Linked DNA regions of Homo sapiens. The protein of the gene in region 1 interacts with the protein of each later gene in a biochemical or structural test. Each region holds a gene or a part of one and is shown in the gene's direction. Other genes may lie near its edges.

Region 1 (3,618 bases):
TAGTGCTGTTCATTACATTGAAAATTAACATGTATTTTAAGAGTAGAGAGAAAAATAAACTGAAATTTAAATGCATGTCTGCTGCCTTTTAACATTTATGTTAAAAAATACATTTGATGTGTGAAGATACTGCAATGGTTAGATAAAAATATTTTTGCATGATCTGTGAGTTTCAATGTTCATATTAAGTATTCATGCAAAGTGGAGAGAAAGAAGGAATTTGAACCTTATTAATATTTAATATATAGATGACAATACCTAGATGCATATAATTTTAAATATGCATGTAGTGAAAGATTCATGCTTGAGATATTTTTAATAAGAGAACTGAGTGATCAAAACTGAGACCATTACTGTTATCTCTCACCTTAGGAGCCTGAATAATTAAAAGCTATTCCTAATTATTAGTAATTTCCTCAAAGTCCAGCTGAACATCCACATAGGAAGTCTATCATCATCAAATAATACCATTTTACATATGAGCGAGGTACTATAATTTTGGAAGCATTTAAAAATCTCAGTAGAACCCTAATCAGTAATTACTTTAAAGAATCCTTTCATGTATTGCTGTAGCAGTTTAAATTTGGCTAATTCAATTTATCAGTAAAATTTATAATGTCCTTTTACTGACTAATGTTTTTTTTTCAATCTTCCAAGACATCTGAATGATTAATGTTTTTAAGTCTTGTCTTTCAAGATTGTAAACTTCTTGAGGGCAAGAATCAAAATTTACCCTTTTTTTGAGTTTGTGTTTTGCAGCATCCTTAACACCTGCACGTAATAAGTACTTAATAAATTGTGTTTATTTAAATTGTGGTAATGTTAATGAGGTAGCTTATCAATTTTGTGGGACAATGAGGAATCATTGTTTGAAAGAAAAACATAATTTATTAAAAGTTGAATTTCCAGTGGGTTTTTGTGTAATTGTGAAAAAATGTCTGAGGAAAGCAAACCCACTAAATCAATAGAAAAGTATTCAGTAAATACTGAGTTTCTAATATGTACATATCATAGCCTTTCAGATAAGCTTTTTGTAACACAAATTAGAAATTATGTGTTTCTTGATGTGTATATTTTCATTCATAGTTTAGATTTTCTGTTAAAGGGTTAATTTGCTTCCCAAATAAAGGAAGGCAATAAGTAAAAATTTTCCTGATAGGTTAGGATAACAATTAGTATATATTTAGCACATATATAGTGAGCAGTTCTCTATTTTTTAAAATAATTCAATTTTAAAAGTATTTTCTAAAGTTAATTTATAAAATTTTGAAATAAAATCTTTTTTTTTCTTTCTTTTCTTTTCTTTCTTTCTTTTTTTTTTTTTTTTTTTGAGATAGGGTCTTTCTTGGTTTGAGGCCCAGGCTGGAGTGAGATGGCGAAATAACGGCTCACTGCAGCCACGACCTCCTGGGCTCAAGCGATTCTCTCACCTCAGCCTCTGGAGTAACTGGGACCACAGGCAGGTGTCATGACACTCGACTAATTTATTTTTTATTCTTGTAGAGATGAGGTCTCCCTATGTTGCCCAGGCTGGTCTTGAACTCCTGGGCTCAAGTGATCCTCCTGCCTTGGCCTCTCAAAGTGTTGGGATTACAGGTGTGAGCAACCCGCAGCCCCCAAATTTCTTAGCTACCTATTTCCCCTACCCAGAGCCAACTACTGTTACTAGTATATTTTATATTGTATACTCTTCTAGAGACAGTCTATGCATAAGAATAAATACATGTGTATATATAATATTGTGTGTGTCTGTATATGTGTGTATGTGTGTGCTCATACATGTATGTATGGATGGATGTAAACGTAAAAACAGAAATGTGTCCTGCAGTTTGCTTTATAAGAGGTCAGTTCCACATCTGTGACTGTATAGCTGCCTCGTTAACCTTAATGGATATAGGATATATACTATCCCTTTTAATGAATATTCTGTAATTTCTTTAACTAGTACCATATTTGTGGGTATTTAAGTTTTTTTCTAAGTATTTTGTCATTAGAAATTTTTAGTATTTATCACAGTATTATCTGTGATAAATATCTTCGTACATGCATTTCCTACATGTATGAATGTATATTTGAGACAGATTCCTAGAAACAAAGTTGTTGGGCCAAAGGGTTAGTATATTTTAAATTTAATAAATATTGTGAAATTTACTTTTGTAGAGGAAGTGTGTATAAGTGGTGTGTACTAAGGGGACTTTCCCACATCCTCGCCAACTCAGTGTATGGCAATCTTTACCAATGTTTCAATGAAAAAGATGCCACTGTAGACTTATTTGCAATTTTCTTGTCAGAAAGATTGAGAGCCTTTTTAAAAAAATTTGGTTACAGCCATTTGTATTCCCTTTTCTATTAGTAATTTTTAGTGATTTGTGGAGGCTCTCTTACATGTTATTTGTTTTAGGACCTTGTTTATGCCTTTTTTACTGGTCACGATTTAAAAAAATTGAATTTATTGTAGTTTTGTTTTATGGATTTTGAGTTTGTGATCTTCTTAGAATGATCTTCCCTATTCTAGTATTTTTAAAAAGTACCAATTGAATCATGAATACTTTTAAATAAAAATTGCATATGTAAACCACTGTTGCCATTGCCAAAAAAATGAAAAACTATAGTTTTTAAGGATTCAAAATGCATTCTAAAAAATTGATTGACATTTTATAAGAAAACAAGCAAACAAAAAATTGACTTATATTTTATGAAAGAGTACCCAATAAATTTATATATATTCTATTTTGAAATAAGGGCAATTAAATAATATCTTCCTCTTGACAATAGATTTTGATAAAGAACTAATTATATTGTGCGATGAAGAAAGAGATAGTGGAAGCAAGTGTGATAAACCAGATGAACTTTGACTTGACACCTTACTTTACTAATTAATAATGGTAACGTTTTGCTTATATTATTAAACTCTGAGTTTCCTCATCTATACTATTTGAGTAATAACACCTATTTTGAAGGATTGTGATTGTTATTATTAAACTCTGAGTTTCCTCATCTATACTATTTGAGTAATAACACCTATTTTGAAGGATTGTGATTGTTATAGACTAAGTATCCTGGCATAAGTAGTGGTGCAATAAATAATCATTATTGTTAACTGACATAGATAGCACTCTTTAAACCTTATCATAGGATTGCTGGGTGAAATTTTCTTATTTTCTAAAAATTGAGAGATTCTTTTCCTTGTCTATTATGAAGTCAAAATATGCCAGGAGGGCTTTTAAGCGACTTCATTATTTGTTTAGAAGACTAGGGATGGGGAGAGGGTGGGTGACAACTTGAAAATAGTTTCCTCAGCAAATACCATTCTTAAGGAGCCTGATAACTAAGACATAGCAGTGAAAATAGCACTGACATCAAGTTATTGGTAATCGGCAAGATACTGATAGTCAAAGGTGAATTGAGGGGACTTACTTGTGGAAACTACTTTGTAATTGACTTTAGATTTGCCTTGGTTAAACTTTTTACTCTATTATTTAACTAAAATCTATATTTACCTATTTGTCTTATTCACATTGTATCTAAGAACCCAGAGAACCGTATTAGGTTAAGCTAATTCTGAAGTATGGTTATTGAGCTTAGAATGCTGATCTTCACATCGCCCCTCAAATACAC
Region 2 (3,618 bases), on another chromosome or scaffold:
AGGTTGCGGTGAGCAGAGATCATGCCATTGTACTCCAGCCTGGGAAACAAGAATGAAACTCCATCTCAAAAAAAAAAAAAAGAGAAAAAGCAAAGAAAAATATATAAAATTTAAATTTTAGCGTCCATAAATGAAGTTTTATCAGAACATAGCCATGCTCTTTGTTTTGTCGTATCTATGTCTGCTTATGCACAAAAATAGCAGAGTTGAGTAATTGCCACGGAACCCATATGTGGACATATTTACTATCTGGCCCTTTACAGAAAATTTCTTGACCTCTAGACTAAATAATGCATGAAAGCTAGTCTGATTTAGAAGATTCAAACTCCCTCTTGACTCTATAATAGCAGTAGGCACAAAAACAGAATACAGCAGAAATATTACCCATATATGTAAGCATTAATATAATAAAACATCTTAGATTGGAGGAACCGATAAACAGTACAAAATTACTACATGGCCCATAGCTAACCTCAAAAGCTTATGTGCAAGTAGCACAGAATACCAGTTCCTTACCTTCATAATGCAATGACACCTGACATTTCTTTCCACTAAGTTGGACCCTTCTTTGCACACTGTCATATATTTTTTAATTGAACATAAATTACAATAAATTTTGATAAACTAATTTTTAAGCATATCACCAAATCTAGATGTGCAACTTATTGCAAAGCACAGAAACTAATAGTTACTGATCACCTATTAAGTGCCATAGCTTCTAAAAGATGGCTTCACAGTACGTAATTTAATCCCCACAGCAAGGCTACATGGCTATTACTCTCCTAAATCTGAGGCTCAGAAACTAAGTTGCAACTTGTTCCCAGTCACCTTGCTAATGTGTGGCAGAGCAACATCCCACCTCAGGATTAGTGTCAAGCGCCATGCTTTATTATCCTCAATATCACTCTTGCATTGGGTTAAAAGTCCCTGATACAAACTACATAGATTCCAAAATTATATACAGTAATGTTATGCTAGAAACTTCAAAGAAAATGCTTAGATCATACTTCACCAGGGAGGCAGAGGAATTTCCAATAGGATAGGCTGGGTTTAGTTTTTTGCCCCCAGATGAAATAATCACCAGTACAAAGGCAATCAAAGTACCAAGAATAAAACATCATAGAATTTCATACATATTTTAAATTTAGTAGCCATTATTGACCTTCAGTTGCAAGACATACATCTAAAATATGTTGATATTACGGCTGATGAGGTTGCCATTTGACATTACTGGCCAGTCAAAGGTGAGAATGAATCTCTATTGACAGCAATTATTTCTGAATACTCAAAGGCTTGGATGAAATAAAAGTATTTAAAATTTTACAGGGCGATGATTTCAGAACTTCAGGCAGAGGCAGAAATGATTTCAAGCTTTCAAGACACTGCAGCCTTTTCTAAGATTAGGCAATATATTAATATTGCTTCACTAAAGATTAATAGTACATTTGCCACATTATTAAGTTAACATATTTCTGTGTCTGTGATTCATGCCGATAATAACTTTATTCCTATTAACAATAATTCTCATTTGAAATCAGTAACAGAAACTTCCAAGTTGTGCTGGGAGCCTTTCAGTCTTAGAGTTGTTCCGCTGCCAGCACTTTTTGTTAAAACACATCATTCATTTTCCTCCGATGGGGGATCCATGCTTAATAATTTTATTGAAGTAGGGCAGAACTAACTAATGTTCCTTTAACTCTTGCCATCTGTACTCAGCCAAAACAATCCTTGTTTACTATGCTAAGGGTCAAATTAAAGATTGGGAGATAAATGATCACCAGGACACGTTGTCTACAGAAAGAATCTCAGTGAAAATGTGGTCTTGTCCTGTGTTTGCGCAGTTAACATGGCAATAGGCTCATTTTACAATTAGTGGACTTGGTAACAGCTGTACTGACACCATAATACTGATTCTCCATATATACCCTCTTGAATTGTACAATTGAGTCTAGAGAAGGGGTTAGCAAATGTTTCAAATGAGAAGTTATCATCTGGATATTTGAGCGAGGCTGCTCTCCCAGGATGGTGGTGAAGCAGGGATCCTAATGCAGCTCTTGTACCATACGAGTTTGGAGGATCCATTCCTCAAGAAGACTTGGTTGACTTTCTGTCTATGACACTCAATAGCTTTGTGTACCACTGGGAATTAAAGAAATACTATGCGCTACTAAAGATCATGATGGGCCGGGCACGGTGGCTCACACCTGTAATCCCAGCACTTTGAGAGGCTGAGGCAGGCAGATCACGAGGTCAGGAGATCGAGACCATCCTGACTAACACGGTGAAACCTCATCTCTACTAAAAATACAGAAAAATTAGCCAGGCGTGGTGGCGGGCGCCTGTAGTCTCAGCTACTCGGAAGGCTGAGGCAGGAGAATGGCGTGAACCTGGGAGGTGGAGCTTGCCGTGAGCCGAGATCACACCACTGCACTCCAGCCTGGGTGACAGAGCGAGACTCTGTCTCAAAAAAAATAAAAATAAAAAAGATCATGATGAAGCTGATGAAGCTGTAACAAAGCTCATGTACTAGAAAAGTGAAGAGACACCTCTTTCATGTGACATCATCCCTTGGTTCTGATATCACACTCGGTTGCCAAGAGGATTGGAATACACTAAGAGGCTCCAAATCAGTGTTAGAGTTTTAGTTAGCATTGGGGTTATTTTTAAAATGAAGAAATTCTAACAATACATTGAGGATTTGGGGTGGAGCACAGGGTTTTTTTTTAAAAAAATTGTATCTTTCACTTTATCATGCAAACCTTTTTCATGTTGTTTCCTTTATGGAATTCTAGCATCACGTAATTAGTTTGAAGGGAGGGCAAAGACACAAGGTTTTTTTTTCCTCCCCCTGTTACTTAGTTCACATTGGAAACAAAGCCTCTCTAAATAGCCCCCTCAAAGACAGCCTACAGCAATTAACACGTGTCCACATTGGGCCCCTCTTCTTAGGAAAAAGTCGTTTCTATATTGCCACCAAACTAGATGCTTTTTAAAGAATCTATTCTAGCCTCATTTTTTTCATCAGGGTAAAAACAGACGTCTTTAGTATTTTTTACTGGTTTTATATTAGTGTTCATGAAGAAAAGTCATTTTGCTTATCTACAGAATTTAAGTTATTTGGCTTTTTATGTGTCATCTTAAGCACAAAATTGGGGCCATCATTACTTTTCATAGAAAAATTAAGAGAGACTAAATGATGATAGAGTATTTCATGAGTAATGAGTACTATTGTCAATAGACTAGACAGAGCTCCTACCACCACAGATGAAGACCCTTTATCAGCTCATAACTGGGAACTTGAAAAACTAGGCAACATCCAGCTCATCCATCACAGAGTACGTGCAAGAGGGTAGGCCTCTGGTGGACGATGCTTTCTTCAAAGTTAAACCCCTGTCTTAATGCATGGATGTTTCCCTCTCGAATACAGATTCCTTCAGGATATTATCTGCAAACTATGAATTCCAACCTGAATTTGGATGGATTTCTTCTGCCGATTGCAGTAATGAATGCCATCAGCAGCCTACCATTACTAATTCTGGCTCCTTTTCTGGAGTATTTCAGCACCTGCCTGTTTCCCTCTAAGAGAGTTGGATCATTTCTGTCAACATGCATCAGTAA
Region 3 (3,618 bases), on another chromosome or scaffold:
GTCGTTTAAGCAGCAAAATCTTGGCCAGGTGTTTTGGCTTATGCCTGTAATACCAGCATTTTGGGAGACCAAGGTGAGTGGATCACTTGAACTCACAAGTTTGGGACCAGCCTGGGCAGCATGACAAAACCCCGTCTCTACAAAAAATATAAAAATTAGCCAGGTGTGGTGGTACACACCTGTAGTCCCAGCTACTTGGGAGGATGGCTTGAGCCCAGAAGTCAGAGGTTGCAGTGAACCAAGATGGCACCACTGCACTTCAGCCTGGGCCAAATAAGGTAGTTCACACCTGTAATCCCAGCACTTTGGGAGGCCAAGGCAGGCAGATCACTTGAGCCCAGGAGTTTTGAGAGAAGCCTGTACAACATGGCAAAACCCCATCTCTACAAAAAAAAATGCAAAAATTAGCCAGGCATGGTGGCACACACCTCTAGTCCTAGCTAGTTGGGAGGCTTAGGTGGGAGAATTGCTTGAGCCCAGGAAGCAGAGGTTGCAGTGAGCCAAGATTGAGCCACTGCACTCTAGCCTGGGCAACAAAGTGAGACCTTGCCACAAAACACAATAAACTATGTGCCACCTAGTTTACTCTATACTTGTCAAAGCCAAAAGTCAAGTCACCAATAATTTTTGAGAGACATATGAGGTCTTCAAAGAAAACAAGAAATAACTTTAAGCTTATTGATCACCTGCATTAGTATATCAGTATGTGTACAGAGGCCTAAAACTTATCGGCCAAACTATTTGTATCTCATTCACGATGTACATATATTCAGGCAGTCTCCAATTTAAACCTGGTTGTGTCCCTAAAGTTGAGAACCTGAAAAGCATTTTTTAAGGAATAATATTGATGCAAATATGCTGTGGTTGCAGGGGCCACCATGGTGGTGTCAGCAACTGCCTGAGTCAGGAGGAAGAGGGTCCTAGGGAACAATCAACTTTCTACCACCGTTAAGGCAGGAACATAGTTCTCCGTCAGGATCAGCTTCTCCATACAGATGTGATTTTCTTCCATAATCAGCACCCACGATCAACAGGATAGGAGAACTAAGGCTGGTATTAGAATGTGACACGTGCTGACAGCATGCCCCAGCATTCAAGAGTGCAAGAGAGAGGCTGCACACTACCAGTGTGATCATGGAGCACTCTCACTGACCCCTTAGGACCCAGAGCACACAGATGACCTTACCCCTCCCAAGTTAACTGGCAGGGCTGCCATCCCTTCTGCACTGATTGCTCTCATGGTCTGTTCTTATGTCATCATCTGTGGTCACTGTTGTGGGGCTCTGTAACTGTCTTTCTTTCTTACAGCCTTTCAGTAGTTGTGAGTTGCAAACCTCACTGTGACAGCTGGGAGAGTAGCAGCTAATCACAGAGCGACATACCCAGAGTTCACCGAAACGTCTCTGTGGAATTGAGAAATGTGGCTGACTCTCACCCTGTTGACTGTGTCACGCCAGCCTTTACCATACAGGGCTATGCTTTAGAGAGCTGGATTTGCTATACAAGCATGCACACAGGAACAGTGCTATCACACATGCTGTGTTCCAGGTGTAGGACTTGAAAATCTAGTGAGAAAAAGCAAACAGTTCACTCTTCTTGGCCACGATGATGAAATCCATAGAGACCCACCACCAGGGGATAATGGGAAGACCTGAGTACAAGCATTAGGGGAAGAAATGGAAAACCATGCACCTGTTGTATGGCCATGGCCAAGGGTTTTCTACCTATTTGGGGAGTACTGGGGTTGTTTGGGGGGAGCTGATTAAATATGTTCCCGTAGACCTGTTCCAGGCTGCTGGGGTGGCCATGGTGTTCCCATTGGTGCTCACGCCAAAGTCAACAGCTGTTCCCCAAGAACTGCTCCCTAGCATCTCACACCTAAAAGCACCTTATGAGACAGATCAAGCAGTGCAGAAGCACCTGGACTTTGGGGAAACGGAAAGGACATTGGATCAGTTTGGGAACCTGTCAATAGTCAAAGCATCATATATGCCATGATAACTTTTCACTGATGCTCCCATATCTTGGCAGTGCCACCCTTTGTGAGAACCCATTCTAGACAGGCATCATTTAGCTTCTCCCCCATCCTCACCACCCCCTTTGCTTAGAAGGTCCTTATGCACTGGATCATCTGTTTGGGTTTGTAACACAGAGGGCATGTGCAGATAGTCAATCGTCTGGTTTTTCTTAATTGAAATGTTATCTCTCTCCCCATTGACAGCTTCACCAGCAAGACACACGACATCAGTATCCCCCTCGCCTGCCGGGCGATCTCCATTGAAGGTAAAGGCCCTTCTTTCGACTGAGGCTAGAGACTGGCCCAGTTTTCTTTTTCTCTAAGACTCATCCCAGATATATCAAAAGGTGCTTTAATTTGCAGGGACCAGGCAAAGAACTTATCAATCAGGGATAGGGGAAGCTGGTTGAGAAAAACAACACTGGACTTTCCCTTCTGGGTGCCTCCTGCACAAACGCAGCCATTTGTTTTTCGATTATTAGCCTCATTCTCCAAATGGTAGCAGTGAGAACTTGCAGACTGAAGTCAGTGCATATACTGAATTAGGAAAGGAATGTGGTCCTAATGTACCTCCTAGGAAACTTTCAGCCTGGCCTTTTAGTTTAAGGTACATCAAACACACACACACACACTTAGATTGAGAAACATCAGTATCAAGATCTACTAAATATTCTGTGTCTTTTTGCCTTTATCGTCAGCCAAACCCATTTTGTCAAAGCCAAACCTAACATTCTCTGTTAATATTTTATACCAAGTTTCTCATTTACATTAGAAATACATACTTGATCATGAAAAACAAGGCAGTAATATGGATTTAAAAGATTTCTAGGGAACAAACTGGAAAGCTGTAAAGGTCAGACATTCGAATTGGTTTGTAGACATGGGCTATTTAACATCTTTAAACATAAAAAATCCCTCATGAAGATAAAGAATAATATTTAGTCTTATCCAAATTGAATCAGACCGGCTTCAAGGATTGTCAGTACGTGAGAGATTGGTGTTCAGAACTGCTGCACCAGAGGCAAATATGAAGTGTGTCGAAAGAATGATTTTGTACCTGAGTGACTTAGGATTTACACGCTCCATGTCCTTTGTGTGATGAGCTAGTTCTAGCTAATGTGCAAAAGACAAATTAGCCTCTACAAACACATAGGGGCAGGTTGCGATCCAGTGCATCTGTGGTGCTAACGATAGTTGCTGATAGAAATTGAGAAACGGGAAAACAACCCGCCTCCCCCCGCAAAATGGAGAAAATTGAAAGAAGTGTGATTCCCTTGCATTGCCAGAATTTCTGACGTAGAAATTCGCGGGTAAGTGCAAGTGATTTGCTCGTTTTGTTCTCATTCTGTAATGCAGCTGTTATTATGAAGTACCTGTGACAGCATTCACTCTGGAAGTCATAGCCTGTCACCTCGATGTGATAGAAAGGAAAGCAACATGGCTTTTCCGCACTTTTACATTTGCCCTTACTCACACAGAGCTCCCACACGTTGCTATGGAATTATCATCTGTATTTTTCAACTTAAATTTTGTTGGGTAGTAAGAAAATAAGTCTTAAGAGATTAATTCTTAAACATTAAAAAGAACCCAAGAGCTAAAAA
Region 4 (3,618 bases), about 76 Mb from region 1:
ATCAGAAATTTGCCTTTTTTCTATTAGTCTTTTTAATGAACCAGCTTTTTGCATGGTTGAGTATTCAGATTTCATAAATCTATTCTTATTCGATAGATTAGAATATGTTATGGAAAAGGTGAAGATTGACTTGTTTACTAAATTCTAAACTTTCAAGAGCTAAACTTTCAACCCTTGAAATTTGAAAAATATATTTTTCATAATAAAATGATATGCAGGTGCTCATCATTATCCTCAAATGCTGCTGTTATTTAAAACTGGAGGTTTAAGAATAGTTTAGATCAACTTACGGATGATAGATGTACATGAATTAAGAAATCTTGTGATCCTTTTAGTATAGGCTTTTTGATTAAACAAAAAAGGTTCTGCAGTCTTAGAGCTATACCTGTGAGGGAGTCCAAAGCTAAACAGATCTTTGATTCAATCTCTTGTTTTGTGTTCTTACCATTAAACTTTCTGTCTTAAACTTCTGAGGCTCTTTCACTAGGTTTTGTGCTGTTATGCTGCATATACTTAAGTATTTTGTGATTTGCTCTACTCATAAATATCTACCACCTCAGGTAAACCTTTCCCTGACTTTATTTTACCTATTTAGGCCTTAAAACATTTATACCTTAAATATTTGTAAAATGGCTGAATCTTCCTAGAAAATAGAAAGTTTAAAATTTTCTCATTTGTATGTTCATCATTATCTCCTTAAGCACATATCTTTGAGCATGTGGTAAAAGGTATAAGGTGAATTGGTCAGTGTAGGGGAGCAATAAGAACAGCATGCTGTTCTTTGGATGATGATATATGGGTAAAATGTTCTTGATTATCTCTTCTTTAAATTTCCTAATGTTTTTTTCTTCAGGATCCTATAACTCATCTCTGATACATATAATTAAATATTTAATAAGTTGTAGTCCAACATGCTCAAATGGAAAAATTGGAAAGTTACAATTTTCAGGTTTAAAGTTTGTAACATTCCATCTTTACCCTTCAAATTCTTTTCATCCTCTCCCTTCCACAGTATAGATAGTAAGACTTGTTTTAGTATATTAGATCTTACCTCCCAATTGAAATGGAAATGTAGCAGAGGTGTTCATAGTCCAAACTATTTTAAATTCTGTTTTTAAAAGCAAATTTCTTTCAAGCTTTTTCCCAAAAATTTGGAAGTCATTTTAAAAAGTATTGTGGTTTTATTGTTTTCTATCCTTTTTAAATGAATTTTTTTCTTAGATCTCCAAGAGGTTTGTCTCATTCTCCTTGGGCTGTAAAAAAGATTAATCCTATATGTAATGATCATTATCGAAGTGTGTATCAAAAGAGACTAATGGATGAAGCTAAGATTTTGAAAAGCCTTCATCATCCAAACATTGTTGGTACGTTTAAATTTGGTAGCAGTATCTGGTATATTATTTTGTTTATTCAGAAACAGCTTATATGCTCTCTTAACTGGTTTCACTAATAGAAATGAAGAGGATGGGGCTGGATATTTAATGGGTATCAAATTAATGTGATTGGTCTAAAATAAAAATTTGCATATAGTATTTTTTGATGCCTAAGTATATAAACTTCATGAGAACAGATATAATAATTATGTTGCTAGTTCTATGAAGATTTTAAGAATATAAAATGATCTTCATTTAGATAATTTAAATCCATTTAGGTAATTTCCTGGATTTCATTTTTCATTTTTAATACAAGTAGGGCTGGTGAAACTATTATATTTAGGGAAGCAAAGGAAAATAAAAGTATTTTAATTTGTGGTACTACTGGCAAACACTGAAGGCATTTTAAATGAGATCTACTGAATTAGTCTTGTAAATAGTAGCTGTTTCATTGTATATTTGTCAGCGTTAGTCCAGATCCATATTTTCAATCACGTTACTATAAAGGACTTAAATATTATTGTTCTTCTCTATATTAGTGAAGAAATGTCATGTTTTCTTTAAGGTTATCGTGCTTTTACTGAAGCCAATGATGGCAGTCTGTGTCTTGCTATGGAATATGGAGGTGAAAAGTCTCTAAATGACTTAATAGAAGAACGATATAAAGCCAGCCAAGATCCTTTTCCAGCAGCCATAATTTTAAAAGTTGCTTTGAATATGGCAAGAGGGTTAAAGGTAACTATGTCATTATATTTTAAATGACTTCTGTTTTTGTTCATATTTTAAATGAACAAATAATCACTTTGCAGGACATCTTTGAATGTGGATGGATATTGTTACTTGTCAGTTCCAAAAAGGGGTTAGCGGAAAACAAAATAGAGGCTTACATTTCTGCTTCCAAATTACATTCATGTGTAGCTTAATATGTTCTGAGAAATGTGTCATTTGGCAGTTTCATCACTGTGCGTGCGGACATCATAGAGTGTACTTACACACACCTAGATGGTAGAGCCAACTACACACCTGGGCTATGTGGTATATATAGCCCAGTTCTCCTAGGCCACAAACCTGTATAGAATGTTACTGTACTGAATACTATAGGCAGTTGTAACACAGTGGTAAGTACTGTGTGACTAAACATATCAAAACATAGAAAAGGTAAAATCAAAATATGATATTATAATCTTATGGGACCACCGTCGTATATGTTGTCCATCATTGACCAAAACATCCTTATACGTACATGTGGCCCTAGTCATTCATTGTCCCACATGGTCTCAACAATTTATGTATGCTTCACTGAAGATTCCAAAATTATTTCTAAAAATTACTAGACTAGCCTCAAAATTGTGGTATCTTTTGAAATCTGCAGTTGTATCTTCTGATATAAAGTATGTAGGATTAGTTAACTTACCAAGTTAACCAATTTATAAGTATAGTTAACTTATAAGCTGTCGGTATATATACATACTTATATATAAAAATAGTTAACTTGGCTGGGTGTGGTGGCTCACGCCTGTAATCCCAGCACTTTGGGAGGCCAAGGCAGGCAGATCACGAGGGCAGGAATTTGAGATCAGCCTGGCCAACATAGTGAAACCCCATCTCTACTAAAAATACAAAAATGAGCCGGGCATGGTGGCGGCACCTGTAATCCCAGCTACTCGGGAGGCTGAGGCAGGAGAATCGCTTGAACTTGGAAGGCAGATGTTGCAGTGAGCCAAGATCGCGCCACTGCACTCCAGCCTGGGCAACAAGAGCAAGACTCTGTCTTGGAAAAAAATAGTTAACTTATAATTATTTATTTTATAAGTATAAAAGGTTAGCAGAAGTATCTATTTCTAAATAAACTTTTAGACTTCTGGTCAGTATGGCAGACTGAGATAACATGGGATGTTCCCTTCTCTTGTTTCAAATACTTTGAAATGCTGGGCACAGTGGCTCATACCTGTAATCCCAGCACTTTGGGAGACTGAGGCAGGCGGATCACTTGAAGCCAGGAGTTCGAGACAGACCAGCCTGGTCAACATGGTGAAACCTCGTCTTTACTAAAAATACAAAAATTAGCCAGGTGTGGTGGTGCCCGCCTGTAGTCCCAGCTACTTGGGAGGCTGAGGCAGGAAAATCACTTGAACCCAGGAGGCGGAGGTTGCAGTGAGCCGAGATCGTGCCACTGCATGCCAGCCTGGGCAACAGAGTGAGACTCCGTTTTAAAAAAAAAAAAAAAAATTTTGAAACGCTGGAC

Evidence for each region. The genes of interacting proteins can lie anywhere in the genome.
Region 2: the proteins of RIMS2 (region 1) and SLC15A5 interact in a test that uses a peptide from one of them, tested with the Homo sapiens proteins (one large-scale study listed by IntAct).
Region 3: the proteins of RIMS2 (region 1) and DOCK4 interact in a test that uses a peptide from one of them, tested with the Homo sapiens proteins (one large-scale study listed by IntAct).
Region 4: the proteins of RIMS2 (region 1) and PBK interact in a test that uses a peptide from one of them, tested with the Homo sapiens proteins (one large-scale study listed by IntAct).

What each region holds. Positions count from the first base shown.
Region 1 is NC_000008.11:103,503,536-103,507,153, forward strand, and holds part of RIMS2 (regulating synaptic membrane exocytosis protein 2), read left to right. Parts: intron 1-3,618. UniProt on the Homo sapiens protein: Rab effector involved in exocytosis. May act as scaffold protein. Plays a role in dendrite formation by melanocytes.
Region 2 is NC_000012.12:16,239,677-16,243,294, reverse strand, and holds part of SLC15A5 (solute carrier family 15 member 5), read left to right. Parts: intron 1-3,427; coding exon 3,428-3,614; intron 3,615-3,618. UniProt on the Homo sapiens protein: Proton oligopeptide cotransporter.
Region 3 is NC_000007.14:111,730,891-111,734,508, reverse strand, and holds part of DOCK4 (dedicator of cytokinesis protein 4), read left to right. Parts: intron 1-2,221; coding exon 2,222-2,283; intron 2,284-3,618. UniProt on the Homo sapiens protein: Functions as a guanine nucleotide exchange factor (GEF) that promotes the exchange of GDP to GTP, converting inactive GDP-bound small GTPases into their active GTP-bound form. Involved in regulation of adherens junction between cells.
Region 4 is NC_000008.11:27,820,809-27,824,426, reverse strand, and holds part of PBK (lymphokine-activated killer T-cell-originated protein kinase), read left to right. Parts: intron 1-1,221; coding exon 1,222-1,364; intron 1,365-1,938; coding exon 1,939-2,108; intron 2,109-3,618. UniProt on the Homo sapiens protein: Phosphorylates MAP kinase p38. Seems to be active only in mitosis. May also play a role in the activation of lymphoid cells.